4 separate regions of the Homo sapiens genome follow, and regions 2, 3 and 4 are each linked to region 1. Evidence: fine-mapped expression QTL. A gene starts in region 1. Each other region holds a variant in brackets. All regions are shown on one strand. Distances are between the middles of the regions. Region 1 holds the start of XKR3 (XK related 3). Region 2 has its middle 42 kb from the start of LINC01665. Region 3 has its middle 57 kb from the start of CCT8L2. Region 4 overlaps XKR3 (XK related 3).

Evidence for each region.
Region 2: its variant is fine-mapped to the expression of XKR3 in whole blood (INTERVAL, PIP above 0.99).
Region 3: its variant is fine-mapped to the expression of XKR3 in whole blood (Lepik 2017, PIP 0.95).
Region 4: its variant is fine-mapped to the expression of XKR3 in whole blood (INTERVAL, PIP above 0.99).

Annotation. Positions count from the first base shown.
Region 1 is chr22:16,821,532-16,829,640 of GRCh38, reverse strand. It overlaps XKR3 (XK related 3), which reads left to right and starts at 4,230. Exons shown (of 4, transcript NM_001386955.1): 1 at 4,230-4,350. It also overlaps the pseudogene HSFY1P1.
Region 2 is chr22:16,702,749-16,710,857 of GRCh38, reverse strand. It overlaps the pseudogene VWFP1. Among named protein-coding and RNA genes, the nearest start is that of LINC01665, 42 kb to the left of the region's middle. The variant C/T (reference allele first, on the strand shown) is at 4,171.
Region 3 is chr22:16,645,257-16,653,365 of GRCh38, reverse strand. It overlaps the pseudogene TPTEP1 and the pseudogene SLC25A15P5. Among named protein-coding and RNA genes, the nearest start is that of CCT8L2, 57 kb to the right of the region's middle. The variant C/T (reference allele first, on the strand shown) is at 4,321.
Region 4 is chr22:16,779,992-16,788,100 of GRCh38, reverse strand. It overlaps XKR3 (XK related 3), which reads left to right. Exons shown (of 4, transcript NM_001386955.1): 4 at 3,692-4,621. The coding sequence ends at 4,482. Among named protein-coding and RNA genes, the nearest start is that of LINC01665, 36 kb to the right of the region's middle. The variant T/C (reference allele first, on the strand shown) is at 4,087.

The DNA.
Region 1 (8,109 bases):
AGATCTCACCAGATGCAGCCCCTTGGACTTTCCAGCCTTCAGAATAATGAGCAAAATAAGTCACCTTACAAATTACCCAGTCAGTGGTATTGTGTTGTCGCAGCAGCAAATGGACTAAAACACTCTATTATTTCTTCCTCTTTAGATAATTAAATAAACTAGCTTACAAAGGGCCATGTCAAATTTCCCATCAAATGATAAAAAAGCACATATTTTTTTTTAAATGCGGTACAGTAGCCTGCCACTAAAACAAAGCCCCATTTTACTCCTAACTGTATTTTTAGAAATAAAGGAAAAGCAACCATAAAGGTCAACATGTAATTTTATTGTTCAGTAAGATTATTGCAGGAATTTTTAATGTTCTTGTCAACATAAATTTCAGTCTCTGTTGTCATGCATAATCTGGTACTCTTTTGGTGGAAGATCAGTTGTAACTAGGGTGATATTTTTCCAGTAAAGATGGTTGAAGAGCTGGCCTGTAACGAAAGGCAACTGATGTATCAGCTGTCGCAGTCATTTACAACCACAGGTTGCCTGCTGGTAGCAGGTTAGAATGAGGAGCCTCATTGGCTAATACCTCAGGATATCTGGTGGGAAAAAGTAGGTGGTTTCACTATCAGCCCCAAAGGAGGGAGATATGATGTAGTATTGAGAAGCTGTGGTTGTAACAAAATTCACAACGTGGCCATTTGCTTACATGTCGGTGCTATGAGAGTGCATATGAATATTTGTCAATTGATTTAAAATAGCATGTTGATTTGTTGTAATTTGTTCTGATTGTCCAACTGAGGTTGAAATGGAAGAGGAGGGAAACCACTTCTAATTGGGTCAGGTGAACCAGCAATGCCCTGGCTGACAGAAGATTTCCTTGTTAGAGTCATATTTAAATTTGTAGATGTTGAAAATGAACTTTCTTCACTAGTTTCAGCAGCTAAGACAGAATTATGTTTATCTGTGTTAGCCCCTGCTCTAAAGTGTTTCTTGAAATATTCAGTGAAGTAGATACAAGAGAAGTGTTTTTAATCTTAATTCTTCTTTTCGTTCTTATTAAAAGTTGGGGACAGCCACGTTTGAAATTCGGATGATAATACAACTTTAACTAAAACCAAGGAGAAGGTAATTCAGTGCCATTTTAAACCAAGAGGCAAGTAACAATAACAAACATAACCCATACAATCTCAGATTTCTGTTTTATCACACAAAGTTAATATCATCAAATAATGAATGAACATTGTTTACTATTTTTAAGAACATGCTTGTTGAGAAAAAAAAACACTCAAGTTTTGAAGCCCTCTGGTGAAAACATGTTATACATTTAATAGTAACATTTCACTAAGTGGCTTTGGTATCTTTATTTGGAGTTCACTGGTAAGACTGAATGTTGTTAGCAACATTTCTTAAAACCTGAAAGTTTAATGCTCAACCTGCACTCAATAATTTCAAAAAAATTAAGTAATTTTTACCTTAATATTTGATATAATTTTTAAAATCTGATCTTACTGCATGTATTAACATAGTTACTGATATATAAAATGAAATTACATATATACTCAAAGTGGTAACTGAAATATTTTGAATACCTTGCTTAAAACAGAAATTTCTTTTTCTTCTGCCAGAAAGTTGGCTAGAAAAGCAGATCTGTGAAAATTCTGTTGAATTTTACTAAATCCATAAAGGTTGAGCTGTCAAATTAAGATTTTCATACTGTCAGTTTGAAATATTCTGTAAGGAGCCTTTATTTCCAAATTTTCTTTCTTGAAGAGTTCTTCATTAGTCACTATGCAAGTTTCATTCTTATCCTATGAATTAGACTTGAATTGGTCACTTTCAGCTATTTTCCAAAGTTTACTGGGAAAGGTCAGAGAAGGAAAATCATTATCTTTATCTGGCTCAGAGACATAAAGTATAATGTGGCCTTTTTATCAAGGATCCTTGTGGCAAAACCTGAAAATCATTGATTCAGTCATTGACCTTAAGTCTGAATCCCCAGGGATTATGTGTTCACACAATGGAGACCCAGAGGAGGCTTTTGAACCAGTTGATTCATCTTTAGGAGAAACATCTTGAGTTTCTGCAGAAACATGTGCCATCTCAAATAAGTAATTCTTTAGCGACTTTTCCAGCCTGCATGTGTTTCAAGACTGCAGCTTCAAATGCTGCTTCAGTAGTCTACTCAGGTAAAGTAATTGAGATCACCACAGTGGTTTCCAACCTGAGTAGCAATGGCATCACAAGAGGACTTTGGTCACCTAGCAACAAACATAAAAATTTGGCCAAGACTGTTTACTTTCCAGTCTCAGAAATGTATCTGGTAAAAATAAAATATAGAATGATTACTTACACAGTTTATTCTGCAAAAGTTTCATGCCTGCAGAATCTTTTAAATTAATAAGGAGGGCCAGGCATGGTGGCTCATGCCTGCAATCCCAGCGCTTTGGGAGGCCGGGACAGGCGGATCATGAGGTCATGAGTTCGAGACCAGCCTGACCACCATGGTGACACCCTGTCTCTACTAAAAATACAAAAATTAGCCAGGTGTGGTCCATGTGCCTGTAGTCCCAGGTCTCGGGAGGCTGAGGCAGAAGAATCGTTTGAACCCAGGAGGCGGAAGCTGCAGTGAGCTGAGATTGTGCCACTGCACTCCAGCCTGGGCAACAGAGCAAGACTCTGTCTTAAGAAAATAATAAATAAATAAATAAATAAATAAATAAATAAATTAATTAATATCCTCAATCCCTGAAATAAACATAATTTTCTCCTTGACACACACAGTCTTACTAGATTGGTGCGAGGAGCATAGGGCCTGGTAATTGGACGGTGCAAAAAAATAAAAATAAATATTTTAAAAACTCTCTCAGCTTGGCATGTTGGATTGAAAACTGATGCAGTGTAAAACATATATGGTAAAAAGACATGGCCATATAGACAAAAGGTAGGTTAATGGTTGTCAGGGGCTGGGGAATAGAAAGAACTGTTAAGTAGATAATGGGGTTTCCTGTTTGATGATAGAAATGTTTTAATAATATAATTTTGAATAATGTAATTTTGTATTATGTGAAACATACCTTAAAAAATTAAAATAAAATCAAATATGAATAAAACTGATTAGATTTCAGAATAAAAAGTTATTCATGTATGTATCTATTCAAAACATTTTTTATTCATATCATAGAATAAATAATACTTTCATTTGGTATGTCTGTAAATATCTGACATGTTAATTATGTAAGATTTTAAAAGCAAGTGACCTACTTATAAGGAGATCCCAAAGAGTGGGAGATTTAAAAATGTAATAATAACAAGAAAGTGTTTTAAGTAAAGTAAATTTGTATGTATGTCTAAGCAGAAAATTTTATTATTTGGTTCCAAGAGCCAAATATCTATTTAAAAAATATTTCTTAAGGAATAATCTCTGTGTCCTGCAACGTAAAGTTATCATTATAAAACAGGAGTCAAATTTGTGAATTAATCTTAGAATTGAATAAAATATTTCTTCTCTTTGAAAAATAATCATGCCCCATTTACAGTAAGAATTTTTATATGTTCATGCTTGAGAGGTGGTATATTAAAATTCTAATGCCTTGGCTTTAAGTGTTGAATATGTGTGGAATAAAAAAATAATGATTTTGATATTTCTTATACTGTAGGAGGCAGTTCTCTCATACTGGAAAGAGGTGTCATTGTTAGAAGCTTGTCTTGGTTTAACATAGTTTAAGTTTTGGGGGTGTATTTTGTTTAGTTCAAAATTTTCCATATTAGCAGTAAGTAACAAAAATGTCCAGATCAGAAAACTCTTTGTGAAAATAAAACAGGTGCTCCTACCAGATGTGGTTCATCAATTTTGACAGAATTTTCATTTAAAAAAGGCAAAATTAAAATTTGTTTAATTGTTTGCTTTCTGGGGAATTTTCTTGTTGCTCTGTCTGAAGGAAGTACAGACTTCTTTTGTGATGGGAGGGGATGAATGGCTACTAGACAGCAGCAAAAGATGGGCCATGGGTGCGAAGAGAAGAGGGAGTTAATGGGAGAATCAGAAAAATATCACCTTAAATGTAGGACAATCGAAGTCAAATTGTGGCTGAGCGTTTTGGGGAACTAAGATGTGTGACTCTGTAGGGAGGAAGAATGCCTTGGTGTTTTCAAGGGAAGATGACTCAGCTAGTGCAGTCACCTGACTCCAAACTGCAAGCCTACTTTAGTCATAAAAAGGCAAGAAAATAAGCAATTTTACCTGCAAAGCAAAGGACGTAGTGTTGAAAACGAGACCAGAAATGGTGCTGTTAAAGAGGTGAACAAAAGCATTTACTTTTTGAACGAGTTTCAAAACTGTGAGGGTGGCAAATAGGCAAGGTAAGTAGGAGCAGCCCTCGACCATCTCAGATCAGCTTCTTCAGCCTACCTTGACCTCTGCCTGTCTCAGCTGGGGATCTTAACATAAATCTCTGGATATCAGGGGTGGCTTTTCCCGAGTCTTGAGCCTAGAAACTCCCTCTCTTGATTCTGATTTTCAGAGAAGAGAAGCAGCTGCTTAGCATTTGGGTGGGACAGTGGTTGTTACTAATATATTACAAATTTCAGCATGTTTTTAAACATCAGAAGGAGAAAGTGCTTCGTATTTAAGTGAAATCTCAAAGGGGCAGAAATCTACCATATTTTTTGTTATTCAGATGCAGTGATGCACTGGCTATGTGAGTACAAGAAACAAGTTCACTTAATCACAAACACATGCCTAAATTCCATTGTTCAGTGACTTCACTTTCACTTTCTACCTTGAATTTTAGACTCTGGAAGACCCATTTCTAAACTCTGTGGCCCTTTTCATATGTGCATATTTTCATAAGTGTTTTCCAGAAATAAATTATAGAGGTCCTTCTGTGAGTCCAAAGGAGAAGGAAGTGGTTGGGGCAGCCAGAAAGGTGCAATCTGCATTAATATCATATTCGATGTATGGATTGCTGGGGAGAGAGTGGGATATATTTCTTATAATGTTGGATGTATTTTTCCCCTATCCTGAGGCCCAGAAACTCTGATGTCTCTGCAGTTGTCTTTCCATGCTTTCCTTTATACCCCTCGCCTACTTCTGTAATTTCTCTCTCTACTCTCCCTCCTCCTTCCCACCCTTTTTCTTTCCATTTGTGCTCTCTCCCTCCATTCCTTCTTTTTCCCTTTTCTTTCTTTTTGTGGGTATCTGGTAGCTGCAACTTATTTTCTTTCTGCTTTTCTTACTCACTTACTCTATTTACTAGGTATTTAACAATTGTCTTTAAAAGTAACATCCTTTCTTTCTTAAAATTTTATCCCTAATGGACATTATTTGGGGAAAAACATTTTTATGGTGCCTCTAGATAAGTAATTATATCATCTGCACATGATTCCCGTATTTTCTTACATGCCCGTTCCTCGTAGGTGGAAATGGGTACTTCATTGTACTCTTCTCTCTTTATTTACAAGAGTGTTTTTTCTGTCTCATCCCTTTAAATAACACATTGTCTCTCTTTTTGTGACATTGAATTAATTAGGTCAGATGCGATTTTTCTCATCTATTCATTTGAAGACTGTTTCATATTGCTTCTAGGGCCTATTTGCAAGCAACAAATTATTTTGTTGTTGTTGTTGTTTTGTTTTGTTTTTTAATTTTTGGACCATTTGTCTCATCACTCCAACAAGCAAGAATTAGTTCTCATCATTAAGATCCCTTCAAGATTTCATTCACTTGTTTCAGCAGCCTTGAATTATCATCACCTGGACCTGTTGTTACATCAAGAATCTCTCATTTCTAATGTTCTACTTTGGACACTGTTACCTGTGAGTTTGTTTACATTAAAAAAAAAAAACCTTTTAGTACTTGAGTACCCTAAAGTTTCATATTTTGAATTGGTGTCAGATTTATTATTATTGATCTCTCCATTGCTGGAGAAAACTAAGCAATAGGTAAACTCTATTCTTTTGGTAATTTGTATTTTCTGAATGTTTCACAGTAAATGTTTACTAGTCTTGTGATGCTGCAAATTGGCAATCAGATATATTTTAAAGTGACAAGGTTGCCCTGTTCATCACCAGTTCTGTACATCACGCAGATCAAAAGTAAGGTGTTTAAGTTTATTTTAAATGTTTTTCCCAAAAATTCTGCTTCCACCACTTTTCCAAGCTCTACCAGATGGATACTCAAGAATTGACCAAGGCAATCTCTTCTCTCATATTTCACTGTCAAATACTCTTAATCAGTGAGTCCTGTCAATTCTGTGTTTCTAAGAAATGATGATGGTGGTCATGATTATAATGATGTCAATAGGAACACCTTTCCAAACTTCACTGTGTACCACGAACTCTTCTTCCTGCTGCCGATGTATTATTTTCTCTACACTGCTATCTCCCCAGGAAGATTCTAATGATGTTATCATTGTACAGATGTGGAAACTGTAGCTTATGAGGTTTTAATTTTGCAATTCAAGGAAATGACAGGATTCTGGCAGTGTGGTAGCTCATGCTTGTAATCCCAACACTGGAAGGCTGAGGCAGGTGGATCACTTTAGCTCATGAGTTTGAGACCAGGAAGATGGTCAAACCCCATCTCCTCAAAAAACACAAAAATTAGTGTACATGGTGGCATGCACCTGTGGTCCCAGCTACTTGGGAGGCTAAGGCAGGAGGATCATTTGAGTCCTGGAGGTTGAGGCTTCAGTGAGTCTAGGTCACGCCACTGCACTCCAACCTGGGTGACAAGGGCAGATCATGTCTTAAAAAATAAACAAATAAATACCCACCACAACCAAAAGCAAAGGAAGCAAGCATAATAAGCTAGTTAATATGCTTGTTAGCAATGTGGACATTTATTTTATAGTTAAAAGAAAAAAATAGAAGTGACAGTATTGTAACTCAGAAAGTCTGGTTCCAGAGTTTGTACTGCTAACCAGAACAACTTGAGCATCAGTTGATATTTTCCATTTTTTTTGCTCTACTTTGTCTGATATTAATATAGCCATTCCAGCAGTCTTATCACTAGGGTTAGTAGTGCACAGCTTTATTCCATCTCTTCCGTAGTAATTGTGTCTTTATGTCAAGTATGGGTTTCCAGGAGACAACATATAACTGGATTTTACTATTTTTATTTCTCTTATAGGCTTTACCTTTTAGTTGTGGTATATAAGCCATTTACAGTTAATGTGCTGATTGATGTAGCTTTCTGTTTTCTCCATGTGTTACTTGTTCCATTTTCTCTTATCTGTCTTCTTTTCTATTATTTATTTATTTTTTTAATTTCCTATTATGGCCTTTGTTGGTTTCTTAGCTGTTACTGTTACTTTAGTTCTTGCTTTGAGGTTTGTAGTGTACATCTCAAATTTACCACAACCTACCTTGAAGAGGTATTACACTTCTCTATGGACAATGTTAAAACACTAAAATAACATGTACCATTATCCCCTCTCAGCCTCTGTGCTACATGCATTTTTAAAATTATATAACCACAATATTTTATTATTTCAACAGTCAATTGCATTTTTCAAAGATTTGATTAAAGAAAAAAGTCTAAAATTAACATACAAAATTGCCATTTTCAGTTTTTGTCATTTTATAAGATCTATTATATCTTTGTGGCACCTATCACAGCCATTTGATAAATTAATTTGTAGATACAGTAAGAATGTCATGTATTTATTAAAGTTTTTAATAGTGATTTTAAAATTTCTTATTAGGTGGCAAAAAATAATAAAAATAAATGCCCAGAACGAGTATGTTATAAAACTAAACTGTAACTCCATGTAACAGCTATAGCATAGTTTGTTTGAACTGAAATTCACATAAAATAATCATATTGAAGTCCAAAAAATTTAAAGATGTAGTGTAAATTCAATTTATATGAAATTGAAGCACGAGGTTTCCTAGATACCTGCTGCCTACAGAGTTAGAATCTAATTCTTCTGATTATTCTTGTAACAAAATCTTTTGAAATTCTAAATTCTGATGCAGAACGTATCAGTGAAACTCCCTCCCACTGTCTCTTGTATTAGCATCAAGGAAGCGAGAAAAAATAAGGTAAAAAAAAATTCTGCTGTGTTTATTTTTTTACCTTCGAAATCTTGCTGAGTATTACTGTTCAACAAATGAAAA
Region 2 (8,109 bases), 120 kb after region 1:
ATCAGGTTAAGGAATTTTTGGGCTGAGGTGGTGGCATTTTGTAAATATACAATCATGTCGTCTGCAAACAGAGACAATTTGATTTCCTCTCTTCCTATTTGCATACCTTTTATTTCTTTCTCTTGCTTGATTGCCCTGGCCAGAACTTCCAATACTATGTTGAATAAGAGTGGGGAGAGAGGGCATCCTTCTCTTGTGCCAGTTTTCAAAGGGAATGCTTCCAGCTTTTGGCCATTTAGCATGATATTAGCTATGCATTTGTCATAAATAGCTCTTATTATTTTGAGATATGTTTCATCAATACCTAGTTTATTGAGAGTTTTTAGTATGAGGGGTGTTGAATTTTATTGAAGGCCTTTCCTGCATCTATTGAGATAATCATGCGGTTTTTGTCATTGGTTCTGTTTATGTGATGGATTACATTTATTTATTTGTGTATGTTGAACCAGCCTTGCATGCCAGGCATGAAGCCAACTTGATCGTGGTGGATAAGCTTTTTGCTGTGCTGCTGGATTCACTTGCCAATATTTTATTCAGGATTTTCGCATTGATGTTCATCAGCAATATTGGCCTGAAATTTTCTTTTTTTATTGGGTCTCTGCCAGGTTTTGGAATCAGAATGATGCTGGCCTCATAAAATGAGTTAGTCCCTCTTTTTCTATTGTTCAGAATAGTTTTAGAAGGAATGGTACCAGCTCCTCTTTGTACCTCTGGCAGAACTCAGCTGTGAGTACGTCTGGTCCCGGGCTTTTTTTGGTTGGTAGGCTGTAATTACTGACTCAATTTCAGAACTTGTTATTGGTCTATTCAGGGATTTGACTTCTTCCTGGTTTAGTCTTGGGAGGGTGTATGTGTCCAGGAATTTATCTATTTCTTCTAGATTTTCTAGTTTATTTGTGTAGAGGTGTTTACAGTATTCTCTGATAATAGTTTGTATTTCTGTGGCATCAGTGGTGATATCCCCTTTATCATTTTTTAATGTGTCTATTTGATTTTTCTCTCTCTTCTTCCTTATTAATCTAGCTACCGTTCTAACTATTTTGTTAATCTTTTCAAAAAACCCACTCCTAGATTAATTGATTTTTTTGAAGGTTTTTTCGTGTTTCTCTCCCATTCAGTTCTGCTGTGATCTTAGTTATTTCTTGTCTTATGCTAGGTTTTGAATGTGTTTGCCATTGCTTCTTTTGATTGTGATGTTAGGGTGTCGATTTTAGATCTCTCCCACTTTCTGATGTGGGCATTTAATGCTATAAATTTCCCTCTAAACACTGTTTAACCTGTGTCCCAGAGATTCTGGTATGTTGTGTCTTTGTTCTCATTGGTTTCAAAGAACTTATTTATTTCTGCCTTGATTTTGCTATTTACCCAGTAGTCATTCAGAAGCAGGTTGTTCAGTTTCCATGTAGTTGTGCAGTTTTGAGTGAGTTTCTTAATTCTGAGTTCTAATTTGATTACACTGTGGTTTGAGAGATTGTTATGATTTTCATTCTTTTCATTTGCTGAGGAGTGTTTTACTTCCAATTATGTGGTTGATTTTAGAATAAGTGCTATGTGGTGCTGAGAAGAATGTATATTCTGTTGATTTACGGTGGAGAGTTCTGTAGATATCTATTAGGTCTGCTTGGACCAGAGCCGAGTTCAAGTCTGAATATCCTTGTTAATTTCCTGTCTTGTTGATCTGTCTAATATTGATAGTGGGTTGTTAAAGTTTCCCACTATTATTGTGTGGGAGTCTAAGTCTCCTTGTAGGTCTCTAAGAACTCATTTTATGAATCCTGGTGCTCCTGTATTTGGCGCATATATATTTAGGATAGTTAGCTCTTCTTGTTGCATCGATCCCTTTACTACTATGTAATGCCCTTCTTTGTCCTTTTTTATCTTTGTTGGTTTAAAGTCTTTTTTATTAGAGACTAGCTTTTCTTTCTTTCCATTTGCTTGGTAAATATTCCTCCATCCCTTTATTTTGAGCCTATGTGTGTCCTTGCAAGTGAGATGGGTCTCCTTGAATACAGCACACGTATGGGTATTGAGTCTTATCCAATTTGGCAGTCTATGTCTTTTAATTGGGGCATTTAGCCCATTTATATTTACAGTTAATATTGTTATGTGTGAATTTGATCCTGTCATCATGATGCTAGCTGGTTATTTTGCACATTAGTTGAAGCAGTTTCTTCCTAGTTTCATTGGTTTTTATATTTTGGTGTGTTTTTGCAGTGGCTGGTAATGGTTTTTCCTTTCCATATTTAGTGCTTCCTTTAGGAGCTCTTGTAAGGCAGGCCTGATGGTGACCAAATCTCTCAGCATCCGTTTGTCTGTAAAGGATTTTATTTCTCATTCACTTATGAAGCTTAGTTTGGCTGGTTGTGAAATTCCATATGTACATCATGAAAATGAGTGCATGTGATATACATACGTACATACACACACACACACTGCATACTTTCATTTTTATGTCCATTACTTTTCTGATTTCATCATCAGCCAACTAAAGAAAATAGAAAAAAAATTGGTAATTTGATCTTTCATGTTCTGCATCTTCCAGCTTCACACTTACAGTTTTCTATTTTTATTGTTATTGTGATCAGAATGAAAAAGTATACTATAGAATCAGAATCGGGTCAGAATCAACAAATATACGATAATGTTTGTACATGCTTTCAATGCAGTTTGTCTCTGCAAAGGGTGTGTTTGTATGCACATGTGCATGTACACAAGTGTGTAAATAAGTGTTTTATTCATGATGGAGAAAGACTGGTCAAAATTATTCTGAATGAGGTAGCACCACTACAGCAGATAATTAGGTATCTAGCAATAAAACAAATCATTAAACATGTTTCTAAGTATCTACTCAGTATCTGGCACAATGTTAAGTAGTATAAACATAATCGTAAGCAAAATTCAGCTTCTACCCTCAATGGTATATGTGCAGAACAAATTGGTAAAGCTGGAGTACATTTCAGGACCAAAAACAGTTTCTGTATAGTTCCCACTTCATCAAGACCATGTTATATACTACTCATACACTTAAGCCATAAGGAAGCAATTCTTCCATCCACCCTTTTACAGGGTAGTGGTGGGGAAGAAGAGCTGACTGTCATGCTTGAATTCACATAATTTCATAATTAAATAATTTCATGTTACATAATCTCAATAAACCTAAAATCCAATATATGATAAAGGTAGTGTTTCAAATCAGTTGGTAAGTGATAAATGGTTCATAAAATGGTGTTCAGATAATTGGCTATATGTATTTTATAGTTGCACAAAGGTATAATATGTCATTCATAATACTAATTCCAGAGTGGATGTCAAATACACTTTTTTCAAAATATAAAGAAAAAATACCATAGACAAATATCATTTGCAACGTGACAGTTAAAATTAAATATCTAAACATAGCACTAACCAATAACAGAAAATTTAAAAAAAAATATTCATGGATTGGAATTTGTTAAAATATAAAACTTTTCTATTTCAGAGGATACCATGAATATGTGTAAAAAGCAAATATCAAGTCAGCAGCAAGTGTTTGCAATTCACTTGACATATTTAACATATGAGTAGTTCCAACAAATCATAAATAAATGATTAGTAGTCCAATAAAAAAAGACAAAGTACATTGACAGGAAACTGTATGAAACTCATGAACACTAAATGTATTAGATTCTCTATTGTTAAAAAAATGCAAAAACAATAGAGAGCATTATTGATATGGAGTTAATATTTTAACAAAATTATTAATTTTATCCATGTTATAAGTAAATATATACATCCAAAAACCCTTATTTTCTCTGAAAGTTGTCACTTATGAGTCTATTTTGAAAATGTTTAAAGAATAGTAATTAATTAACTTTAATAAATAGGTATTCCTATTGAGGGAAAACAGACATTTCCATAATTTTTCTTCTGTTTCTAATATAGTAGATGGTAGGAAAATAATGACAAATGCATGTTCATACCTGGATAATATGCATTCCATTAGTTCTTTTAAACTTTTGCATTCTCAAAACTATATTGATCCCTCAAAGCGTACCCTTTGTTGTTGAAAGCAGCCTTTCGAGCATAAAGACACACACATCACTTTCCTTAAATCTTATATAAGGCAAGGGCGTAGATGCCTATCAGAAAATGTATTTCAAGAATGCTTTTTTAGTAGTTCCTGTGGCTTAT[C/T]TTATAGAGGAAGGTTTTTTTTTTTTAAAAAAAATACACACAGTTTTTGATGCACATTTTTATTGGAAAGAGCTTTTATTTCCTTAAATGTTTTGTTGTCTAAGTGTGAAAAGTATCCTGCAGTGGAATTTAGTGGAACAGATGCTTATTGTGATAGATGAGATGAACTTGCTTCCCCAAGCATGCATGGGCATGAAATGCATCTGGCTTCTGTACATAAAAGTCAGTTATGTTCCCAAATGTGTTTCTGCATTTACACAGACATTTAGGGGCAGACACCCTACTATTCCCTCAAAAGGCGACTCTGCTTAATTATGAAGTTCAAGTTAGACCAGAAGTTGGAAAATACTAAATTCCACATTGCAGACAGAGCCTGAGCAGGTGATGTCACCACTGCATACTAAGGTGGCAAGTCCTCAGAGAAGTCACTTATCACCTTACCATGGAGAAAAATAACTGTGTCCAGAACCCAAGAGGATGCTGTAAAGTAGCGTACAATCAAGTGTGCAAACCTGTGCAATATATACCAGATGAAATCCAGTTCAGAGGAGGAAATAAGGGTAGGCTCAGGAAAACAAATAAATGAGGATATGCTTTAAAAAGTAGGACTTCATATAAACAGTCATGAGAGTAAAGACTATTGCTAAGCACATAGGAAACACAAACCAGGCTTTCAGGAAGGAGTTTGGCACATGTATGCACTGGTAGGAGGTGTAATGTGCAGAAATCCGGCCTTTTGTGGCATAGCAACTAAAGTTCCTTTTCTATCGTCCAGATAACCTTAAATATTCCCTTATAAAGTAATATCTTAAAAGGCCATCTACTGTGCACAGTGTGTTAGCATCAAGGACATGAAATTTATCTGGAATATACCAAAACTTTAATCAATAGACTAGGACCAAAGCTTTTAAAAATAGTTTTTTTTTTAGATAAGTCATTATAATTTATTATTTCCTTGCCATAGGTAAGGCATGATACATAACTTTACTTTTTTCTCAGTTACTTAGTGTGTAGGTAGAATAATGACCCTTAGTAGGATGACCTTTTGAATATGTTGTTAGGCAGCATGGGAGCATTATGGTTGCAGGTGGAATTAAGATTGCTAATCACCTGACCTTAAAATGGAGAGATTATCCTGAATTATCTAGGTGGGCCCACTGTAGTCACAAAGAACCTTCAAACAGGAAGGCCGAAAGACCAGAGTGAGTAGAAGAGCTTGGGGAAACTGGAGCAAGATAGAATACATTTTTTCTCTTTGTCTCAACATCAGGGCTCTAAGTATATTGTAAAAGTATAGCACCTTTTCTTCTCCAGGCCAAATATTTCCAGTTTTTTCTGTAGTTTTTTTTTTGTTTTATTATTATTTTTAGTTGACATTTAACTGTATGTATTTACTGGTGACAGTGTGATATTTCAATACATGTATACAGTGTGTAATGATCAAATCAGGGTAGTTAGTATATCTCTTCCCTCAAACATTTACCATTTCTTTGTGTTGGGAACATTCAAAGTCTGCTCTTCCAGCTACTTGAAAATATACAATAAACTGTTGATAATTATAGTCACCCTGTGGTGCTACAGAACACTAGAACTTATCCCTCCTCTTTGTGTAGTTTTCACTTGTTTCTCACTCATTCATAACTACTTTTTCAGAACTTGTTGCATGTTGCACTCCATGATGGGTGAACATGGAGACAGGTGAGACATATCTTCCTGGTTACATTTATGATAGAGCAGAATTCTGCCCAGCCTGGTCTGAACAGGCTGCGGTTCTCCAGGCAAGGGGACTCACCTGCCCAGAGGCAGGCAGTTCTATAACGTTCCCTCCTTGGACCCCTACACCTCCATTGGTGGAGCAGTGTACCTGGCTCCTCTCTCTGCTTCTACGCTTGTTGGGGACAGCGATAGTTCCCACCAGTGATCTCAGGGCCAAGGCTGCCTGATTCCCACTTCTGCCCTTGGCTGACTATGTGACATGGGCATGTTGCCTCTCTTTGTTTCCATAGCTTCAAATAAAATGGGGCCAGCAAGGAAGCTCAGGAATAGGGCTTGGCAATGGCAAGGCTTTGCTGCTCACCTCGGGCCTCCTCTGAGTCTCTGTCCCGCTCCTCCTCCTCTCCCTCGAATGCCCTCTGCCTCCATTGCCGCCAGGAACGTTCCCCTTTCCCCTGAGCCAGAGAGCATGCCCCTGGGCTTGACGGTGCTCATCCCTCAACTTGTCTCTCAAGGAGAAAGTGTGTGGCCTGTGTGGGAATTTTGATGGCATCCAGAACAGTGACCTCACCAGCAGCAACCTCCAAGTGGAGGAAGACCCTGTGGACTTTGGGAACTCCTGGAAAGTGAGCTCGCAGTCTGCTGACACCAGAAAACTACGTCTGGGTCTCTGTGTGGACAGAGCCCGAGAGCTTGCTTCCTGGAATGTCCCTCTGTCCCCATTCTTATGGGGGCTGGAAGGGGGGTTGTGGGTGGTATGACCTTCAGGTGGCTGCAGGGTGGGAAGGAGGGTCTCTTGGATCCTTCTGGGCTGAATAACCCCAGTTTGACCAGCTGACGGCTGGCCTATCTCTTGCCTGGTTCCCAGGTGCCTCTGGACTCATCCCCTGCCACCTGCCATAACAACATCATGAAGCAGACGATGGTGGATTCCTCCTGTAGAATCCTTACCAGTGACGTCTTCCAGGACTGCAACAAGCTGGTGAGGACCTTGAGGGTAGTGGGAAGCAGATGGTCCCAAGGCTTGGCCCAGTGGTATGGACACAGAGTGTGACCTTCTAACGTGGACACTACCCTTGTGTCTTGACATGATCTGCACCAAGACACCACTTTAGCTTTTTTTTCTTGGCTTTCAATCTGGGAAACAAAAAGTAAAATCAACAGTTTCTAGGGGAAGCAATGCCTGGCAAAACATTTCCTTCTGCATGAGAAGTAACTCCCCTTGGCATGTGCCAACGTTTCTCTTTCGGCCCCAGTCTTAGGATTTGTTCTCTTATGGAAGTATCTTGTTTTCAACACCAGAGCCAGAGATTTCCTTTTCCTGTCACTGCTGCATTTGTCCAGACCAAAAGACCGTCCTCTCCCACTCCTCAAAACCCCTTGGTGCCCATTTCTTGTCTCACAGAAATTCTTTTCTGGCCTTACTTTTGGTGATTTTGAGTCCTCGTATTATGACTTATTTTTGTGTCTTCATCTCTAATGACAAGGAGGAACTCCCCAGGGTTAAGTGCAGTTGTCTCTCTTCTTTTTTTTTGAGACAGAGTCTCGCTCTGTCACTCAGGCTGGAGTGCAATGGCATGATCTTGGCTTAGTGCAGCCTCTGCTTCCCGGGTTCAAGCGATTCTCCTGCCTCAACCTCCCGAGTAGCTGGGATTACAGGTACCCGCCACCACACCCAGCTAATTTTTGTATTTTTAGTAGAGACGAGGTTTCACCACGTTGGTCAGGCTGGCCTCGAACTCCTGACCTCAGGTGATCTACCCACCTGAGCCTCCCAAAGTGCTGGGATTACAGGTGTAAGCCACCATGCCCGACCATAGTGCGGTTGTCTCTTATCTGCTGCATGTATGTGTGTACACACATGTGGACATGGGCTTGTACATGGACATATGTGACTACAGAAGTCTATGTACACACACACAGCCATGCACACATACATGTTGCTGTGTAGCACCACCAATGTGGGAGAGACTGGTTGAAAACATGGATCTCAATTCTCTTTCTATCTATGCAGTGATTTTCAGTCTCTGAGGACTCCAAAGGATACTTACATTCCCGGTTTGGTGGAAATCCTGGGCATCTGAGTTGGAAGAGTGAGGACAGGGGAGGAGCTGGGGACATTGGGACTGTTGGAACGTCTTGGAAACAATGACCCACTCAGTGTCTGAATTCATTTTCTGTCATAACTGCCCTGAAAAAGTCCAGTGTGTTTAGAGGCGTGTTTTG
Region 3 (8,109 bases), 180 kb after region 1:
TGTTGTTTTAGAGATGGTCTCAATCTGTCTCCCAGGCTGGAGTGCGGTGGTGCGATCATACCCCACTGCAGCCTCAAACTCCTGGGATCAAAGAATAGTCCCACCTCAGCCTCCTAATTGAGACTATAGGCATGTGCCACCACACCCAGGTAATTTTGGGGTGTACTTTTTGTAGAGATGGGGTCTTGCTATGCTGCCTAGGCTGGTCTTGAATTCCTGGCCTCAAGCAATCCTCCCACCTCAGCCTCTTAATGTGTTGGGATTACTTGTGTGAGCCTCTGCACCCAGCCAGTGTTTCAGAGCTTTAAGGTGATGAGAGATGCTTCTGGATGGTCCTGGGAGCCTGTGTCCTTCTCACATTCAGGAGTCCAGTGGAAAGCTGGCTCAGCTGGACTGAGCAAGCTGAGAAGAAACATGGTCTTTTGTAGGGGATCTGTCAGGGTGGTGGGAGAAATTATAAAAATTAAGTTGTAGGAGATAGACACAAAACTTCTTGGAAGGCTGGGAGGTTTGCATACCTTCAGTAAAAGATTTGGCTGAAGGCAGCTGAATTCTCTTAAAAGCTTAGGGCGTAGATACATAGGAATGTAGAGAAGTTTATCTAAATAGCTTGTTTACTCATGTGGTCCTAAAACAGACCTTTGATCATTTGCGGGCGCATGACTGCTCTCTACTCAGGAGGTCAGCAATGTTAATTACCCTCTAGTGGTGTGGTGTTTACTTGAGAACTTTGTCATTAAATCTGTACTGAATAAATGCCTGGAGCCCCAGCCTGACAGGGCTGTGCCTGGTGACTCTTTATAGCACCTGCTGACTCTTTATAGCACCCTCCTCAGTGTCTGGGAGCTGCCCAGTCCCCTACCCCATTCTTTCACAGGATACCTGTGTCTGAGTGCATTTCTTCATCCATCACGCAGCCAGGGTCTGCAGGTTGGACCCAGCAAGTTATTGACAGAGTTTGAAAATTATACAGGATTGGTTGTTGAGTTGGATATTTTAGTCAACATTTATTAAGCCCATGCCTCAGCAGTAGTTGACTTTTGTCTAAAGGGAGAGAAAGAAATTCTAGTTTTCCCAAACGTCCAAGGCTCCAAACAAAACATACTGAATTAAGATTTCCAGAAGAAAGTCCTGGCAACTTGGATATTTAATAGGTGCTCCAGGTTATCAAGCACATTGGAACACAATGGCCCAGGTGCTGTATCTCAAAATGTGAGTCTGTGGACTGGCATTGTCTGCCTCACTCGGGAACTCAACAAGAGACGCAGAATCTCTGGTCCTGTTTGAGACTATTGAATCAGAAGCTGCATTTTATTTAGCAAGGCCCCCAGGTGACTCCTATGCATGTTTATAGTTGAAGGGCTAGTGGAGTGTGGTGACAGGAACATATTTGGTGCTTGTTCAGGGCCTTGTTTTAAGAACCCATGATGCTTGTGCCCAGTGGAGCAACCCATCAGTCCAATTGTTGGGAGAAAAGCTGAGGCAAGACTTGCTAGTCTGACATAATATGAAAAGAGCCTTGGAACATGTCCTGGGTCCAGAGTTTAAAACTTCTTGTGGCCTATGGAACACCAGGTTCTGTGCTTAAGGGTGGAAGGCTGCCCCGCCGCACTACAACCTAAGCCTAGGGCATAAAACCCCTCATGGCTTGGATGGAATCCAGGACTCAGGACATAAAACCCCTCGTGGCCTCTGGAATGTGTCCAGACTTGCTGGCTCCTTGCTTCTTGCTCTCCCAGGATCATAAACTGATTGTACCTTGAGGCAGAAGGAAATGTTCATTATCTCGAGTAGCAGAACATGTTCCATATGCTTCAAAGAAAATGCTAGACCGACACAGCTATAAACTAAACACTTGATGTGACTGCTTCCTTTTGACCAGCACGTCCTCACCACCTGCTTCTTTGTTTAATCTCCAATAAATGGTGTGGGCTCCCAGAGTTCAGGGCCTTCACAGCCTCTATACTAGCATTGGCCCCCTGGACCCACTTTGTGTACTATTAGCTTGTCTCATTCCTTTGACTCTGCCGGACTTTGTAGCCCCCATGGCCTGGTGTTGGGTTTGATCACCTCAACACCAATGTGGCTATTTGTGACTGCCTTTGTTTTATAATATTTTTATTATTCACTTTGTACAGATGAAGACTTCCAGCTGTAGAGGCCAAAGGGGCCACACTGCAGGTAGAGCAGGCATTCACCAAGGCGTTTGTGATCCTGGGGTGCAGCTCCCACCCTTGGCTGCCTGGGTGCTTCTTTCCAGACCTACTGTCTTGTGACGTTCCCTTAGGCACGCAGCACAGGCTGCTTTCTGATTTAGAAGTGAGCCTGTTCAGTTGATGGCTCAGCGCAGGCCTCTAAAAAAGCAAGCCTGATGTGGGTTAGTACATCTGTGGTTGACTTATTTGGTGTTCATTTTTTCAGTTTTCAGAAAGGTCAGTTGAAGTGCTGCTGGTGGCTGTAGAATTGATACGCAGGGGAGGTTTTTGATCTGTGAGCTTTCTAAGGGACAATTGCTAAGCTGCACTGATTCCTTGAGCCCCTTTCCTTTGGAACAATGTAGAGCCCAGTTCATGGCTCCCAGAAGTTTAGGTCCAGTAATTTGGCTGCAGGCCTAGAGAATGGGAGGCTGCAGACTTGGACTAATGGTGAACTCTTGCCTCCCCCCAGGGATATGTGGTGCCTGTCATAAGCTCCAGAGAGCTGCCTTCCATGAGACCAGAAGAGTGGGCAAACATGAAGTCCAATCCCCCTATCCAGGCTGCCATTGACCTCATGGCAGGGGCTGCAGTTACAGTCCTGTGCCTCATAACCATGTTTCTGTTGGTGATGGATGGTGTATCGGATGGTGGTCCCATGAAATTATACCATCTTTTACTATACCTTTTCTGTGTTTATATACGTTTAGATACACAAATACCACTGTGTTACAGTTGCCTACAGTATCCAGTACAGTAACATGCTGTACAGGTGTGTAGCCTTGAGCAACAGGCCATACTGTACAGCCTAGGTGTGGAGTAGGCTATGCCATCTAGGGTCGGGTGTGTATGCTCTATGATAGCACAATGATGAAATTGTGTAATGACAGATTTTTCAGAACATGTCCCAGTCGTTAAGAAATGCCTAAGTATAATCCCAGAGAAAACCCAGTCTTCTCTATTCCTCAAGTACCTTCTAAATGAGATCAAATAAAAGTGGTAGGAAAACATTACCTTTCTCCCTCTAGAAGTGATGGGCTTTACCTTTGGGATGAATCCATTTGATGGAAGTGTGGCATTGTTCAGAGTGTGGCAGAAGGTAGAGAAGTGTCCATTATTGCTAACACCTTGTGAGTCAGGGTGAGGGGAGGAATGTGCCCAGTGCAGCTGGAAAACAGCTCAGAGGTGAAGCCCCTTGTCCATTGTCACCTGGCTGTGATAGGCAGGTGACATCGTTCTTCATTTCAAGCCTGGCAGTCTTCAGAGCCCTTGTAGTGCAAAAATAACACCATAGCATCTCCCAGGAAACATCACTTACTGTCCCTGCTAGTGTTGGGAAAGAAAGGAGGACACTCTTTAGAAATGTCTTTTACAATGAGACTGATAGTGGACTGTGTCTTACAGCCATGAAAGGAAAGGAGAAGTTGTAGGATTTCCTGGGAATGTCAGCTAACCTGAGCCTAGGGGCCTGAGCCCAAGGGCAGACTGAGGCTCCCCCAGCACAGGGAGGTGCTGCCTGTGACAAGGGGGTAGTGCTGGCACAGTGCAGGCTACTCCCTAGAAAGATCAGCTTGAATATGCAGGAAGAGCAGGACCCTCGGGCTGAGGCACAGGTGGAATGGGAAGTGCATGGTGGTAATTTAGTTCTCCAGAGGCCAGAAGTAGGAGGAGCAGTTGGAATGCTGATGGCCCAAAGGGAAACCCTGGACTACCCTGGCCTCCCACAGTAATTGTGGCTCCCTGCAGTGGGGAGGCCAGAAAGAGTGTTGCCCAATGCTGTCCTCATCCAGTCCACCCCCCACCCACCACCAACAGATGAGTATGGTCATGAGTGTGGTCACCTCATCAGTCATTTGCTCAGTTGTGAAAAAGAAATTGTTCCGAGAAGAGCAAAGTGTTTTTCCATGAGCCAAAGGTCGGCCAAGGTATGCTAATGAGGAGGACTGGAGACAGCACGTCACAGACACCGAGAAGGAGCACTGGGCAAGGGCACTTCTCCCAGGGCAGAGCCCACAAGGAGCGTCCTGGCACCAGACGCTCATGGAACTGAAGGCTGGCAGGGGTCCGCCCAGTAGTCTCTTGCCCGCTGCGTGCCTTTAGGCTACAGCCTCCCAGGCCCCGTGCC[C/T]CCTCCCCTCCCCTCCCCCATGCCACACTGGGGAGGATGCTGACCCTGAGAGTGGTGCAACCATCTGCCTGCCCCTGGCCACCACCTCTCACCAGCATGTGAATGCTCTTGGGCTCAGTTCTGTATCTGCAGTAGGAGGGTGTTTAGCCACATGAGAGAGTCTCACCTTTTGACATTCTATGTCTTTCAGTCTGTCAAAGATCTAGAACATATTGTGATGGAATTAAAAAGTTTACTTTTGGCTGGGCAAGGTTGCTCAAGCCTGTAATCTCAGCACTTTGGGAGGCTGAGGCGAGTGGATCACTTGAGTTCAGGAGCTCAAGACCAGCCTGGCCAATATGGTAAAACACCGTCCCTACTAAAAATACAAAAATTAGCCAGATGTGGTGGTACACGCCTGTAATCCCAGTTACTCAGGAGGCTGAGGCAGGAGAATTGCTCGAACCCAGAAGGCAGAGGTTGAAGTGAGCGAAGATTGTGCCATTACGCTCCAGCCTGGGTGACAGAGCAAGAATCCACCTAAAAAAAAAAAAAAAAAAAAGAGTTTACCTTTTCATATTTATGTGCATACAGGTATTTGGGTACCACATTTGTAATTTACAGTGAGTTTGAAAGATAGAAATTGTAACAGTATGGTTGGGAGCCAGGTATGTAAGGCAGTTGCCGATGGGCATGTTTTGAACCTGTATTGGGCCCTTATATGTATGATCTCTGTGATCCCATCATTACTGTTCATTTCTTCCAGGAGAGGAATGACACACTTCTCACTTTAATTGCCAGATTATCTCCAATTCTGAATCAGTGGAATATAATTTAATATGATTTTACTATGATTGAGTCATTCTCTCCCAGGTACTGCTGGGCTAGGATAAAATGAGATCTGAATTACATTAAAATAATTAATTATTCCAAGAGAAGAGGTGACAGAATGTTTTAAGTGGGTGTGTAATTTAGATAACCTAGATGCAGATAAGCTGAATAAAGCATTTAATCCAGCACATTCGTATTTTAACTTGATCATCAGCAATGGAAGTTGGAAACCCAATTGCAGCTGCAGGTCCCACACAACTGAATTTGGTTCCGTGTGCATAGCAGTGTTCGCTGGACATGCCTGGAGGTCTGAAGGTGCGCCCTTTTATAGGCAGGAATTCCACCAGGATGGGTATAGCTTGTTTTTTTAAAAGGCTTGGGACTGGATACGATTGCCCAAGAAGACAGTGTAGACAGCGAGGAGGGCTGAGCATGAATGGGATGACCTACCTGCACAAAAAGGGCAGGCAGGAAGGCAGTAAAGAAATGAGCAGGGCCCAAACCAGGAGAGTGTGGCATGCCACAATGGAGACTGAACAGAAACAAAACTACGGGCGACTGTAGTGTTGTTCCCTGTTGAAGGAGAGACACTCTATTACAGAAGACCTGGACTTCAGTTCAGTTCAGTTTCCTTAGCAAAGGACAAAATCAGGGAAGAAAAACTCACTTATGTGAGGCAAACATCGCATGCAGTGGTACCAACCAACTAAACATGATAAGCTACAAAGAACTATGGTTTTCGCTACTCTCAAAACGCTACTGAGATTACCAAGTTTTAAGCTTTTTCAAGATTATTTATAGGTGATTCCCCAACTGGGAAAGTCATTTCTGAATTTCTTCTCTTCTAAAATAGATCTAGAAAAATTAACAAACCTTATTCCAGTAAGAAAGTTTGGGATGTACTGCTTCAGCCCCTGTCCTAAGGAAATTATCAAGCCTGGAGGGTGGGGTGCTATCAACTGCCTGCCAACATGTTACCTTCTGGAATCCAGAAGCTTCCCTGTGCCAGGTGGAGCCACCAATGTGGGGAGGAGAGCACAAAGAGCAGAGAATCCACAGAAACCATACCTGCAGGGAGCAAACACCATCACACCCCACTGCTGTGAATGCAAATGCATTTACCTGTTCTTACCATCTCCCTCAGCATTTTGAATCTATTCTGGGATTAGACAAGCTCCCAGACTTAACTGCTATGTTTAATAAAAACATGGTAAAGGAAGAATCGGGGCTATTAAAATGCTTAAGAATGAGAAAGTTGAAAAAAGAAAAAAAGACGTAGATTGTGTTTGGCCTGTCTTCTCCCCACCGTAAGGGGTTGCCACTCAGCTGGAGGCCTGCTGGTTCATGTGGGCCAGCCCTCGACACCTCAGTGACCAAACAAAATACAACCCTCACTAGAGCTTCTTGTACTTGGCAAGACCCAGGCGTAGACCTGGGCTACCAAACAAAACCTTGTGTTCTTAGAGCCTGGGAACAAGAGCTTTGACAGTTTCCACAAAGAACTCTTCTGCAGCATTAGCATTTCTATTTGCACCTACCTGCAGCCATTACTACATTGACCTCTGGAAATGTCACATCAGCTGTTCTTGAGATAAAATACCATTTGCTATTTTTTTTTTCTCTAGGCCCTGTCCCTTTGATGTTAAGTGGTGGAGGGAGTTGGCGGGATTTGCCTATGGCTTGCGGTATATCCAGTGGATTGTATCAAATCCAGAATTCAAGTTCTTTCCATGTCTGGAAAACCGGCAGGATTTATCAGAACCTTTATAAATGTTGTGAAAAATGAAGGTGAATAAACACCTGTTTTTCCAGCATCTAGTATACATCTTAAAATCTGAGATGTGAACTGCTCTGTTTTGATTGTAAAAGGAAAGAGAACAGTAACACAGCAACTTTGTGTCCCAAATAGAGCACAGATAACTTGTCTATTACTCATAGTAATCCTCCCTTAAATTTGTATAACGTGAAGTTTTACAAAGTACTTATACCTCCCTTATCTAATTCAATCTTCATAACCACCCTGGGCAGTACTAATATTATAAACCAGTCTCCAACCTCAAGGTTGGTGCTCTTGCCACTGCCCAGGTGAAGCTGCAAAGCTGTGGCCACCTCTGTCTCCATGGTTGCATCTGTCTGGCCATCTCAGGCCTCAACGCTGACCCATCCGTGTACTAAGAGTTAACCAAGCATGGAATTGGGGTATGTTACCTGAGCATCAGTCAGTTTCGCCAGGAGACCTGATACTTGTCCTTGTTTCTGTTGGTCTATTTAGGGAAAGCTGGGAATGCGTCCTTCCATGACTTGTTGGTTTTTAGCACACTTGTCTGGATTTGCATGTGTAAATATACCTGTGCTATGCAGTTGTGTGGGTGTCCCCAAAGGAGGGACTGTTGCAGTCTTTACTTGCCCTTTTGTCTTCTAGGAATAATGGCCTTATATTCTGGACTGAAACCTACTATGATTCGAGCATTCCCTGACAATGGAGCACTCTTTTTGGCCTACGAATATACCAGGAAGTTGATTATGAGCCAGTTGGAAGCACACTGAAGTGTCTTGGAGGGCCTGAGCCAAGCACAGGTGTTTGAGGACTACAGTTCATCTCAGGGTTTCTTGTAGTACAAGACCAGTGTGAAGTTATTCTGATTTCTTGGGAATTTTGCTTTTTCGTCTTCCCTTATACCCTACATCTTAAATTGTACGGAAGAACCTCTATTTTGCATCATGTCATTTCTGCCCATAATTGTACTGAAATAGAGAAGTCACTGCTCTTTCCCTTGGTAAAATAGAGAGTGGTCAGTAGCCTTATGCATCTAATTCAAAAGACTGAGTACAGTTCTGTCAGGGCTTTTACATAAACCTCTACTTGCACATGCAATTTGGACAGTTATGTGCTGAGGGAAATACAGTTTGGTTCCATGTTTATTTCAAATATTACCAGAAAAACCCAGAGGTGATCATTTCTTATGAAGATGCTTACAA
Region 4 (8,109 bases), 42 kb after region 1:
CAAGATGTGTTTTTTGGCCTAATGTATGATATATCCAGGAAAATGTTCCATGTATGCAGTAAAGAATGTGTATTCTATAACTCTTGGATGGATAGTTCTGTAACTGTTTTGTCCATTTGCCCTACAGTGCATTTTAATCTGATGTTTACTTACTGATTTTCTGTCTGCATGATCTATTCATTTCTGAAAGTAAGGTGCTGAAGTTTTCTATTAGTACCTTGTAGTTTTTTTCTCCCTTTGCATCTATTAATATTTACATTATATATATGCATATAAATATATATGTATATTCCTGATATGATATTTTCTTTTTTATCCTGCTTAATTCTGTATGCTGTCTTTGTCTTTGATATTTGTTGGTTTGATTATATTAAGCCATGGCGATATTATTTGGATTTAATCTTATTGGAAGACTTCAATATTCCTTTACCTGAATATTTATATTTTTATTTAGATTTGGAAAATTTTTTGTTGTTATTTCTCTAAATAGACTTTTTACTTTTTTTTCCTACAATACGCTTATTTTTTTTTTTTTTAATTTGAGACGGAGTTTTGCTCTTGTTGCCTAGGCTGGAGTGCAATGGCGTGATCTTGGCTCAATGCAACCTCCGTGTCCTGGGTTCCGTGATTATCCTGCCTCAGCCTCTTGAGTGGCTGGGATTACAGGCGTCCACCAACCACACCTGACTAATTTTTGTATTTTTAGTAGAGACACAGTTTCACCATGTTGGGCACTCTGCTCTGAAACTCCTGACCACATGTGATCCACCCGCCTCCGCCTCCCAAATAGCTGCGATTACAGGTGTGAGCCATTGCACCCAGCTTTTCCTTGAACACCAGTGACTAATACATTTGTTCTTTGGATGTTATCACATAAATCCTATGAACTTTCTAGATTTCTTTTTTTTTTCTTCTGACTGTATATTTTTAATTGATCTGTCCTTGAGTTTTTCTGCTTGGCCACTTCTGTCAATACTCTCAACTGTATTTTTTTTATTTTATTGTGTTTTTATCTTCAACTTTTTTATTAGTTTTTTCCTCCCATTATTTCAATCTCCTTGCTAAGGTTCTCTGATAAATTTCTGAATTGTTTGTGTTTTCCTTAAGTCCACTACATTGTCTTAAAATAAGTATTTGAATTTTTTGTCAGGCTATGTGTCCATGCCCATCTCTTTCGGGTCACTCACAACTGGCACCTTATTTTGTCCACTTGGTGCCATGATGTTCTCGTCATTGATCCTGATCTTTGTGACTATGCATTGTTATCTGCACAATGATATAGGTGCCTGATTCAGTGTTCATGTCTGGGCTCTGTTTGGAAGCTTCTTTCTACAGTAAGCCTGTCCAGAGATTCAGGGCAAGAAGAAGAAGGAAATTAAGGTCTTTAAGTCTATGATAGCTTCAGCCCTGGTAGAAGTAGGGGGAATCCTAATGCCTAGACTTTGATGGCTGAAGTAATTTGACCACCAAAGCTGACTCAGTGCCAGGTTGCACCTGTAGCCCACAGTAGAGCACTGGATGCACTCAAGGCATGCAGCTGCCATGGTCTTCCCTCTGAGGTTTATTCAGTCAACCAGTAGGAATGTTGACTGGAACTCGACTCCATCCTGCTGAGCCCACAGTTTCTCATCTGTTGTCGGGATGTGTCTAGAAGTTTGCCCCTTGATATCATCCTCCCAAAGTGCTGGGGTGAAGGCACAGAAAAATAAAGACCCAAGTGAAAGTCCTATGTTTTCTTCCTGGGCTCAAGCAATCCTCCCACTGCAGCCTCCTGAATAGCTGGGACTACAGGCATGTGCCACCATGCCTGGCTAAATTTGTGTATTTGTGTGTGTGTGTGTGTGCACGCGTTTTGTAGATACAGGTTTTCACCATGTTGCCCAGGTTGATCTTGAACTCCTGGGCTCTAGTGATCCATTCACCTCAGCCTCCTAAAGGTAGGATTACAGGTATGAGTCACCATACCTGGCCAAATTTTACTTTCGAACATTTAATTTTTAGGTCATTTATTATATTCAGTCTCATTTCTCATAAATGCAGTTACAATGCTAATGTTTTAGAGTTTCACTTTGAGTATTCCTTAAGGAATAAATGGAGTGTTAATATTCATTTTCTAAATGGTGTTAGAAAGTGAATAATAAATTTAGACGAGGAATGACTATTTTGCTATTTGGCCTTTTTTTGTTTTCTGGCTTAAGTTCATTGTGTATGAAGAGTGTTTTTTGTTAGTGTTTATTTGTTTGTTTGTTTTTTGAGATGGAGTCTCGCTCTGTCGCCCAGGCTGGAGTCCAGTGGCGCTATCCTGGTTCACTGCAACCTCTGCCTCCTGGGTTCAAGTAATTGCCCTGCCTCAGCCTCTCGAGTATCTGGGTCTATGCCCGGCTAATTTTTTGTATTTTCAGTAGAGATGGGGTTTCACTGTGTCACCCAGAATGGTCTTGATCTCCTGACCTCTTGATACACCCACCTCAGCATCCCAAAGTGCTGGGATTACAGGTGTGAGCCACTATGCCCAGCTGAAGAGTGTATTTTTTTTTAACCTGCATGTATATGTAAAATGAATTTTTTCTCTTTCAACTGAATGTAGTACAAAAGTGCTTAAACCAATTATTCAACTACTTCATAATTTTGGTTTTCTTCCATGTGCTTATTTGTCTAATTGTTGAGAGAACAATGTTGAAATTAAAATAATTTTGCTTATGAAAAAGTTTCTCATAAAGTTGCATGGATACATACAATCACACACATGCACACACACACTTCTTTTTTTTTGTTTGTTTTTTTGAGATGGAGTCTCGCTCTGTCGCCCAGGCTGGAGTGCAGTGGCACGATCTCAGCTCACTGCAAGCTCCGCCTCCCGGGTTCATGCCGTTCTCCTTCCTCAGCCTCCCGAGTAGCTGGGACTACAAGCTCCCACCACTACGCCCGGCTAATTTTTTGTATTTTTAGTAGAGACTGGGTTTCACCGTGTTAGCCAGGATGGTCTCAATCTCCTGACCTCGTGATCCGCCCGCCTCGGCCTCCTAAAGTGCTGGGATTACAGGCGTGAGCCACCGCGCCCGGCCACACATACTTCTTAATTTCTGTAGCTTTTTATTTTTTTCTGCTTCTCTAGTACCTTGTATTCCATCACTCAGCAGAATCTGTCAGCTCCACTTCCAGGATTTACTTTAACTCCACAGCTTATTTCTTCTTTTCTGTTACCACCATAGTCTAAAACACAGTCTATATTACATTAGTCTCCTATTTCACATGCTAACTTCCTAGTTAACACTCTTAACTTTCTATAAAGAATGGAACTGTCTTTTCAGTGTCTAATTCAGGTATTTTTTTTTAATTGAGACTGCTTTATATGTGCTGTCACACCTTATAGCATCAGATCTGAATGTGTCTCTTCCATTTTATCTGTGCCAGTCTTCTCTTTGAGGGAATGTGTATATACATGTATAAATGTAGATATGTATGTATTTGCTTATTATTTGTTTTTCCAAGGTGTAATATATGTTTTGCATGCCTATACTTACTGTATCCCTGAAAATGGAAGATTAACAAACCTTTCTTTTTATAAGTAAATGATTTTCTAAAGGAGGTGGGTGAGGAAGAATATATCTTAAAATGGCAAGTTTAAAAAAGAAAGTGGTCATTACTAATGAAAAATATTCTCTAACATTTTCATGTTTGTCTTTAATAGCATTGCTGATGACATTTTCCCTGTTATCAGTTACTTATGGGGCCATTCGCTGCAATATACTGGCCATCCAGATCAGCAATGATGATACTACCATTAAGCTACCGCCGATAGAATTCTTCTGTGTCGTGATGTGGCGTTTTTTGGAGGTTATCTCACGTGTAGTGACTCTGGCATTTTTCATTGCATCTCTGAAACTGAAGAGCCTACCCGTTTTGTTAATCATATATTTTGTATCATTGTTGGCACCGTGGCTGGAGTTTTGGAAAAGTGGAGCTCATCTTCCTGGCAACAAAGAAAATAATTCCAATATGGTGGGTACAGTACTGATGCTTTTCTTGATCACACTGCTATATGCTGCCATCAACTTCTCCTGCTGGTCAGCAGTGAAACTGCAG[T/C]TGTCAGATGACAAAATAATTGACGGGAGACAGAGGTGGGGCCATAGAATCCTACACTACAGCTTTCAGTTTTTAGAAAATGTGATAATGATATTGGTATTTAGGTTCTTTGGAGGGAAAACTTTGCTGAATTGTTGTGACTCATTAATTGCCGTGCAGCTCATCATAAGCTACCTATTGGCCACTGGCTTTATGCTCCTCTTCTATCAGTATTTGTACCCATGGCAGTCAGGCAAAGTGTTGCCAGGACGTACTGAAAATCAGCCAGAAGCACCGTACTATTATGTAAACATCGAGAAAACTGAAAAGAATAAAAATAAGCAGCTGAGGAATTACTGTCACTCCTGCAATAGGGTTGGATATTTTTCAATCAGAAAAAGTATGACATGTTCATAAAATATACATATATACTTTCACAGAACAATGAGTAAAGATGCTGAATGTGACTTGTTAAGAGGCTCTTAAATTTAAAAAATATACACAGCAAAATCTTGGAAGTGGTTTCTAATAAAATTCATTTATGTTCTCCTGTGAACGTGCCTTAGTAATTTTTGTTTTCTTAACTATAATTATACAATTCATTAAATAAAACAAAATAAAAAATCCATCTGGATCCAAAAACTGAGCAGGAAAAATAACCGTAATGCATTTTTCACCTAGTACGTTTTTGGAATGCCTTTAACAAGTTTTTGTAGCGTATACATTATCAGTGAACATGTTTTCTTCAGAAAGAGTATTTACCACAGGTTTTATTCTGTACTTAAGGAGAATCTGAAAGGCAAGTCTTATGAGACTGCTCCTATTTATCTTAATTTAGGGTAACTAAGGCATTTCTCATTGAACTTTGACTAACAGAAAGCAACTCATATTAATGCATCTCAAGGCACAAAAACTTTTCAATTAAAAATAAATAATCATGTTAATAATTTGAAATACGAATTTACATTCCTACCAACAGTGCACAAGGATTCTCTTTGCTCTACATTCTCAATAACACTTGTCATCTTTCATCTTCATGATAATAGCTGTTCTAACATTTTGAGAGAAGGTGCATTGTTGGTTTTAATTACCATTTCCCTGATGATTGGTGGTGAAGCATCATTAAATATACAGTTGTTCAAAAATTGGCCAGGCACAGTAGCACACACCTGTAATTCCAGCTACTAGGGAGGCTGAGGCAGGAGAATTGCTTGAACCTAGGTGATGGAGGTTTCAGTGAGCCAAGATCGCACCACTGCACTCCAGCCTGGGTGACAAAGTGAGACTCTGTCTCCAAAAAAATAAATAAATAAATAAATAAATAAATAAATAAATAAATAAATAAGGCCGGGCTTGATGGCTCACGCCTGTAATCCCAGCACTTTGGAAGGCCAAGATGGGCAGGTCATGAGGTCAGGAGATGGAGACCATCCTCACTAACATGAAGAAACCCCGTCTCTACTAAAAATACAATAAAAATTAGCTGGGCGTGTTGGCATGCATCTATAGTCCCAGCTACTCAGGAGGCTGAGGCAGGAGAATCGCTGGAACCTGGGAGGCACAGGTTGTGGGGAGGTGAGATCGCGCCACTGCACTCCAGCGTGGGTGACAGAGTGAGGCTCCATCTCAAAATAAATAAATAAAATAAATGAATAAATAAAATTAAACATAGTTAAACATAGACTTGACCATTTTTGTCTTTTTTTGAGAAATGTAAATTCAGGTCCTTTGCCCATTTTTAATAGGCTTACTTGATTTGTTGTTGTTAAGTGGTGTGAGTTTCTTGTATGTATTTATTATTCACCATTTATCATATATATGATTTGCAGACATTTTCTCCCAGTGTAGGGGTTGTCCCTTCACCCTCTCTGCTAATTGTTTCCTTTGCTGTGCAGAAACTTTCTAGTTTGATGTGATGCAATCCAATTGCTGTTTTTCTTGTGCTTTTGTAGCCTGTGCTTCTGGGGTGATAGAACTGAGGTTTCAAAAATTAAATTAAAAATAGAATTACAACATGGTCCAGCTACTCTACTTCTGAATATGTACTCAAATGATATAAATTCGTATTTCAGAGAGATATTTGCATACCTATATTCATGTCAGCATTATTCACAATAGCCAAGATAAGGAAACAACCCAAGTGCTCATCAACAGATCAGCAGATAAAGCGTGGCACATATACACAATGGAATATACTATACAGCCTTAAAAAAAGAGAAAGTGCTGTTATTTATTTATGATAAAATGAATGGAATTGGAAAACATGCTCAGTGAAATAAGACAGGCACAGAAAAACAAATATAGCATGGTCACAATTACATGTAAAATCTAAAAACGTTGAACTCATAAAAATAGTGAATATGCTAAGTGTGGTGACTCATGTCTGTTATCTCCAGCACTTTGGGAGGATGAGGCGGTTGGATCACTTGAGTTCAGGTGTTTGAGGCCACAGTGAGCCATAGTTGTGCCGCTTCACTCCAGCCTGGGCAACACAGCAAGATCGTGACTCTTTATACAAATACACAGAAAGTAGTCAGAGATTGGAGTGTGGGGTAGTGATAGGAATACATACGGAAGGGATGACATTTGTCAAAGGGTAAAAAATTTCTGTGAGGCCGGAAGTAGTTCTGGTGATCTGTTGCACAGAATGGTGATCACAGTTAAAAAATGTACACTTCAAAATTGCTGAAAAAGGCAGGCATGGTGCCTCATGCCTGTAATCCCAGGACTTTGGGCGGCCATGGCAGGCAGATCACTAGAGGTCAGGGGTTCAAGACCAGCCTGGCCAGCATGGTGAAACACCGTCTCTACGGAAAATACAAGAACTAGCCAGGTTTGGTGGCACACACCTATAGTCACAGCTACTCAGGAAGCTGAGGCAGAAGAATCACTTGAACCCGGACAGTGGAGGTTGCAGTGAGCCAAGCTTGTGCCACTGCACTCCAGCCTGGGCGACAAAAGCGAAACTCCATCTGAAAAAAAAAGTTGGAAAAGTAGAGTTTAAATATTCTCACCACAACGAAATGATAAGTGTGTGAGGTGATGTATATGTTAACTAGCCCAACTTATTTTGCATTGTATACATGTATTATAAAATCACTTTGTGTCCCATAAATCTTTACAATTGTTAATTTAAAATAAAATTTCTGAAAGAATGAATTAAAATTAAACTTGGCTTGATATACGTAGACAGTAATATATGCCTATGTGTCCTTCTATTTTGACTATTTTGCTTCTGTTATTTCTTGGGGAAACAATCACCATGATAAATGAAGAACACTAAAGCTTAATATTGTATAATTCTCATTATTTTGTTGTTTTTGTTTTTCCTCCTACTTTTTTCTACCAAAGCAATGTGGACAATTTTCTTATTCATACTTTCTTTTATGTTTTTTTTTCTGATGAGAAATCACCACCAAAAATTAAGCTCATGTGGATTTGTGTAATTTTTCCTGCTCCTATCTATGACCATCTTTACCTTTACTTTAGATTTTACAGCTTCGTAAAACACTTATTTACTTATTTATTATCTCCCTGTATCATTATTTTTTCTTTTCTTTTCTTTTCTTTTTTTTTTTTTTTGAGAAGGAGTTTCACTCTTGATGTCCAGGCTATAATGCAATGGTGTGATCTAGGCTCACCGCAACCTCTGCCTCCCAGCTTCCCCGGTTCAAGCCATTCTCCTGCCTCAGCCTCCTGAGTAGCTGGGATTGCAGGCATGCGCCACCACGCTCGGCTGATTTTTTGTATTTTTGGTAGAGACAAGGCTTCACTGTATTAGCAAGGATGGTCTTCATCCTTGTGATCCACCCGCCTCAGCCTCCCAAAGGGCTGGGATTACAAGCATGAGCCACTGTGACCAGCCAACTATTCGTTATTAAATGAAAGAGAGAATGGCTCTCATAATAATGATGGACGCAGCCTTGTATGAAATCTTACTAAACAGGCTGAACGCCGCCTAAACATTAAAAAGCAAGGTAAATTTAAGCAAGTTTATATTTTATGCTGTCATTACATTTAATTGGGTTAAAAGTTAAGGGGTAT